2 separate regions of the Homo sapiens genome follow, and region 2 is linked to region 1. The links come from fine-mapping of genetic effects on plasma protein levels. Region 1 holds a variant in brackets. A gene starts in the other region. All regions are shown on their reverse strands. Region 1 overlaps KNG1 (kininogen 1). Region 2 holds the start of KLKB1 (kallikrein B1).

Evidence for each region. PIP is the chance, under the fine-mapping model, that this variant and not a neighbour inherited with it causes the effect. Protein levels are from antibody-based Olink assays in UK Biobank. Linkage for the fine-mapping came from a reference panel and not from the study's own genotypes, which makes the PIPs less certain.
Region 2: it holds the start of KLKB1, and the variant in region 1 is fine-mapped to the plasma level of the KLKB1 protein (UK Biobank, PIP above 0.99).

The regions. Positions count from the first base shown.
Region 1 is chr3:186,740,821-186,743,742 of GRCh38, reverse strand. It overlaps KNG1 (kininogen 1), which reads right to left. Exons shown (of 10, transcript NM_001102416.3): 10 at 1-2,221. The coding sequence ends at 1,412. Among named protein-coding and RNA genes, the nearest start is that of KNG1, 25 kb to the right of the region's middle. The variant A/G (reference allele first, on the strand shown) is at 1,605.
Region 2 is chr4:186,225,997-186,228,918 of GRCh38, reverse strand. KLKB1 (kallikrein B1) reads right to left here and starts at 1,412. Exons shown (of 15, transcript NM_000892.5): 1 at 1,332-1,412; 2 at 666-724. The coding sequence starts at 723. RefSeq lists an enhancer at 2,235-2,905.

The DNA.
Region 1 (2,922 bases):
GGGGGTCGACCCTTGTACTCGCAGGACCTTAGGTGACTCTGTAAGTATAGTAAAACGCAGTTAATATGATGTTATCATTCAATCATTTTTAAAAAGTGGAGCAACCAGTTGACAAGGTAAGACTTTTTCCTGACATCTGTGGTTGTTTATTTAAAAGAACAGACAATATTTAAAATGAAAGACAAACTCAGAGGTTCAAATGCATCCAATAACTTGAAGCAGCAGTGACATATACATCCAAAGATGATTGTAGCTATTTAAAGCCATATCTTGTTTTTCTAGGCAAAAGTACAACATTGGTTATAAAGCATATACCTTCTTTGCACTATAGGGCAATGAAAGGCAATCCTATTATTCTGCTTCTCAAAAATCAATGGTCTTCAAAGTCATAGCAAAAAGACTATAAAGTGAGACTAGAGAGTAATTTCCTCATAAAATTTCGGAACAAACTTTGCATCACATTCCATAATATTCCCTTGTCAATTATTTAAAAAGTTTTATTAGCAAGCCTGCTTCTATATTGCTCCCTCTGCTTTTCATCCTTATCATTAAGCTCGGAGCTTCTGTAAACTAAGAATTACTCAATCTAGGCTCAGCAAAAATAAACAGAATACTTCTATATGAAAGCCTGTTGCAAAGAGTAGTTAATGAGTAAACAGAAATTTTTGACTTATGAGAAACACTCTCACTCAGAAAGGGCAGTGGGAGTATTTATTTGATATAACTAGCCCATTTTGGGAATAGAAAGTCAATTAATTTATGTCCCCCCTTTCCTCCCTTTGGCCAACCTGTCTTCTTTCTTGTTACTTTGAAATCTGGAAGTTTTTCTTATTATTTCTTTTTTTTTCTTTTTTTCTGAGACAGAATCTTGCTCTGATGCCCAGGCTGGAGCGCAGTGGCACGATCTCGGCTCACTGCAACCTCCGCCTCCCGGGTTCAAGCAATTCTCCAGCCTCAGCCTCCTTATTATTTCTATTCCATTAATAAGTTCAGCATTTAATCTCTTGACTTCCCTTATTTTCACACACATTCAAATACCAAGTGCCACAGTTTATTAAGAATGACAAGAATCTTTGTATGCAAATTCATGACATATGTTGTAAGGTACATATTTGTTATCAGAGAAGCCAATTGCAGCAGGCCATACGGCACATTAGTTTGTCTGTTTACTGTGCTAGTTTAGAAAACTTGGGAAGAAGATTCAGAAAAGAGTTAGAATTGTGGCACACAATTTTATGCAGTCCGTGGAGACTGATGGTGTCTCCACTGGGAGTCTCACCACTTCTCTTTAGACTGTTCCGAAGCTGCATGGTTTTTGGTGCATTATATCAGGATATTTTCATCTGGACAATGGAGAGAGGGATATTGATACTTTAATAAAGTATGAAAGAAATACCCATAGCCACTTAAATTAAGAAAGGCCATCAGTGAGATCGAAATAATAAGATTCTTTCATTTGTGTGGTTGGATTAATTTCACTAACTGACTTCCAGGGGCGTCCAGGACATTTTGGGGAGGTCGTGTCTGGAAAATCTGATATTGGGTTAAATGAAAGGCCATTTGGGTCTATCTGGATATCAGGGATCCAATCGTCATCACTCTGT[A/G]TGGGAGCTGGTGATATAGGAGGCATCATAGTTGCAATGAGATCAGAGTCCTGAAAGTCAGAAAAGGTAACTGTTACACCTGGCTTGGCTAGGGAAGGGATGGGTGTTGGCCCTTCTGTCTTCTCTTGTGTCTGTGCAGAAGGTGTAGTACTGTCTTCAGAAGAGCTTGCCAAATGCTCTGTTTTCCAACCATTGTGCTTTCCATTCTTTTTGCCTTTATTTTTATGTTTTCCGTGGCCATGACCATGCTTATGCTTATGTCCATGGTCAAGGACATGGCCCCCTTGGTGTTCAAGATCATCATCAAGTTTGAACTTATGTCCATGACCAAGACCATGCTGTTGTTCGTGTCCATGGCCAAGGCCATGTCCTCTTTGGTGCCCATGCCCTTGGTCACGTTCATGTTTATGGCCATGGCCAAGATTATGTTTTCTTTGTTTTTCATGGCCCCAGTCATGTCTACGAGTATGCCCTTGTTCTTTTCCTGAATCCCGCTCTTCATCTTGTGCAGGTGCCATGGAAGTGTGGGGTGGACTTACAGTTGTTTCTTCTTTTATTTCCCCTATTCGTGATGATCGGAAAGGTGAAAAACCTGGAGGCCTTTTCATCAGTGAGATCTAAACAGAAAATATTAAGATGAATGTATTACTGCAAAAATCATGCTATTGATGATAGAAAAAAACACTGAGATCTGGCAATGTTATCTTAGTTTACAATGGGGGAGGTGTTTGCCAGATTTTAAATGCTATATTAACATTCCAGAAAGGATGAATAATTTTTTTTGTCTTTTGATTGATCTTAAAATTTGTGGACATTAATTATTGTTGTTAATAATACCATAAAATAGCCAGGCATGGTGGCTCACACCTGTAATCTCAGCACTTTGGGAGACCAAGGCGAGCAGATCACTTGAGGTCAGGAGTTTGAGACCAGCCTGGCCAACATGCTGAAACCCCATCTCTACTAAAAATACAAAAATTAGCTGGGCATGGTGGCACATGCCTGTAATCCCAGCTACTCAGGAGGCTGAGGCAGGAGAATTGCTTGAACCCAGGACGTGGAGGTTGCAGTGAGCTGAGATGGCGCCACTGCACTCCAGCCTAGGCGACAGTGACTCTGTCAAAAAAAACAAAAAACAAACAACAACAACAACAAAAAAAAAACAAAAAAACCCAGCCAAACAACAACAAAAAAAACTGTAAAATAAGCTGGAGTGTTTTTGCTTCATCTGGATGGTTGAACTAGCTAATCTCTAGGGTAGCTTCTGAGCCTATGTTTTTACTGAGCACAGTATTTAATTATTGATACTACTGTTATT
Region 2 (2,922 bases), not on the chromosome of region 1:
ACCATAGACCCAGAATCATGCCTTGTGGGGACACAGAGAAAACTCCCTCTGTAATGATTAATGAAATGTCCAGAATCATTTTTATTCTCCAAAAATTAATGAAATTAATAGAGAAATGAGATCTAAATCTGGTGTTGAAAGCTATTCACCTAGAACTATCCAAATGCATGGTTTGCTAAGTTAAATTTAAACCAGTTACTTTCATTTTTGAAATGGTTCCCTAGCGGTCCAGAGTAAAACTATGTATGGTGTTCCTAACAGATACTTGGATTGGACCCAGACACTATAAAATGCCTAGCACTCTTTTGAATTTTCAGATAAAGTTTAATTTTTTACTGTTGATAATAAAAATAGAGGACTAATTTTTTTTTGTTTCAAGTTTTGCTTTGCAGAGTGTCATCTGCGAACAGAAGTTTTTGTTAACACAAGTCCCAAGACATTCCTACTTCTGAGCTCCTTCCTCTGGTCTGCAACATATGTCTACAGCAATATACCTGACAAGTGGTCCTTGTTGTGGAACATTAAATAGACACGTGTCCTGAATCATCAGGGACAATCTCCACCCCCGAAGCTGTATGTTCAATAGCTTTCTCCAGGGGTGGTGCCACTTGCTTGGCTACTCCTGTCTTAGCCTGAATTCCATGTTTTATAGATAATTCACTTACCACAGGAAACTGTAGCAAACAAGGAAATGAAATAAGTTGCTTGCTTGAATAAAATCATTCTAAAAAAGAAAACAATACATAACTCTGCTGGTTTTAGACCACATTTAACATAAATCTTAATTTAAGGTGATTTAGATTTTCTTGTAAATGTCTGAATTGCAAGACAAAGCACACAATTACTGGTATAGAAAACAAGGGTTTTTTTTTGGTACATTTGTGTCTAGGGAGTTGGAAAATTTATAATGCTTCCCAAGATACAAATTGAGACCTCCAGACTACTGTTGTGTTTATTGTTCATTGGCCAACTCTGTGGCTAGTAATGTTGGAAAGGGAATTGGTAGAGAGAGAGTAAACAATTATGAAACCTCTTGATTTGGGCAAAAACAAAATTAATAAATAATGGCAATAATGTCAGTCCAAAAATCCCTAAGTAAAGAAAACCTCTGAAAATATTAAAGCCCATTTAAAAATTTTAAATCAATCAAATATTCTTTCTGATTTAAAATCATCTTACATTTAAATATTTCTACATAAAGGAACATTATCTATACTCTCTACATACTCAGGAAATTAGAATATAAATGATTAATTTTCTCATAAAGTAAAAAATTATACTTAAAAATTATAGTTTATTTGGAAACAATCAGAATAATAAAAATTTGCTACCTGAAAACACAATTGCTTCTTGGAGGTGAGTCTCTTGTCACTTAAAAATGAACGGTCTTCAAGCTGTTCTAATGTGGCACTGCAGGCAATATTTTGCTTGGCTTCAATATTGACTTTGGGTTTCTGCCAACAGTTTCAACTTTTTGTCCTGTCAACATATTCCATGAACATCCTATCCGTGTTCAGCTGTTAAGTATATTAACTATTTCAGGGAGTGATGTCAGCAAGAATAGGAATAGGAGTTTGTCAGAACAGGAGTTTCTAGCGCTCATCCCTTGCAGAAACATCAATTCGAACAAGTATCCATGCACGAAAATAACTTCACTAGAGCTAAGGAATCAGGTGAGAGGTTATGCCACCTGGTTGCAGCACAGAAATAAGAAAAGACACATAGAAGTGTATAGGAAGGACAATTTCACATTACCGGTGTCATCTCACCTTCAAGCCTGGGCAGCACAGTATGGAGAGAGATGCCCTCTTGCATGGAGGAGGGACAGTTAAGATAGAACCTAACTTCACCACAGATCCCAAGCACCAAGCCCACTCCAGTAAACCCCAGCACCAGGATTCAGGCCTGCCACAGGCCAGACCAGCCTCTGTGGCCTCAGCCCCATGCTCACCCCAGACCAGGTCAGCCCCTGGGGCTTCAGGCTCCAAGATGGCCACACAAAACCTAGACTTCAGGCCTGCTCCAGCTCTAGCCTGGCCCCCAAGACTCTATCTAGCCTCCACGTTAGCCCCAGCAACCCCAGGCTCCAAGTTGGCACCCATGGGCCTAGAATCCAGGCCATCCCCTGCAGATCCAGCACCAGGTCAGCCTCCAGAGATCTTGGCTCCATGCTGGGCCATGTGGACCCAGATGCTGGGCTCACCCCAGTGGACCTTGTTCCCAGGACAGCCTGAATAAACTCAGGAACAGGCCTATCCCCATGAACTCAGGTGCCAGGTGATCCCCATGTTAGGCTGGCCCCTGCAGACGCAGGCTTAAGGCTCATTTCAGTGCCAAGTCAGCCCCCAAGGATCCATGCTTCAAGCCAGTCCTTGTGCACAGAATACAGACAACCACAGTGAATGAACCCAGAATCCAGCCCTTCCCACCTTAGAACTCCAGCAGAAATCCTGTGCATAGACCCCAACAGACAGCCCACCAACAATCTCTGGTCAATCTGACTAGTGAATGGCTTTCTCTGCTGAAGCTAGTATGTAAAGACTGAAATAGGTGCCTACTTCAGTGCAAGGCCACACTGATCACAAATAATCGGGGAAACAAGAAACCACCAAAGGAAGGAAATAAAGCAGCAGGAGGTGACCCTAAAGAAATGGAGATCTTTACTGCATGACAAGAGCTAAAAATAATTGCCTTAAGAAAGCTCAATAAGCTACAAAACAATATAGATAGACAGTAAACAAAATCAGGAAAACAATACATGAGCAAAATTAGAAGTTCAACAAAAAGATAGATAGGAACCATAAAAAAGAATGAAACAGAAATTCTGGAGCTAAAGAACAAAATGACTGAATTGAAAAAATTCACAAACAGCTTCAGCAGCAGACTAGATCAAGCAGGAGAAAGAATCAGCATGCTCAGATA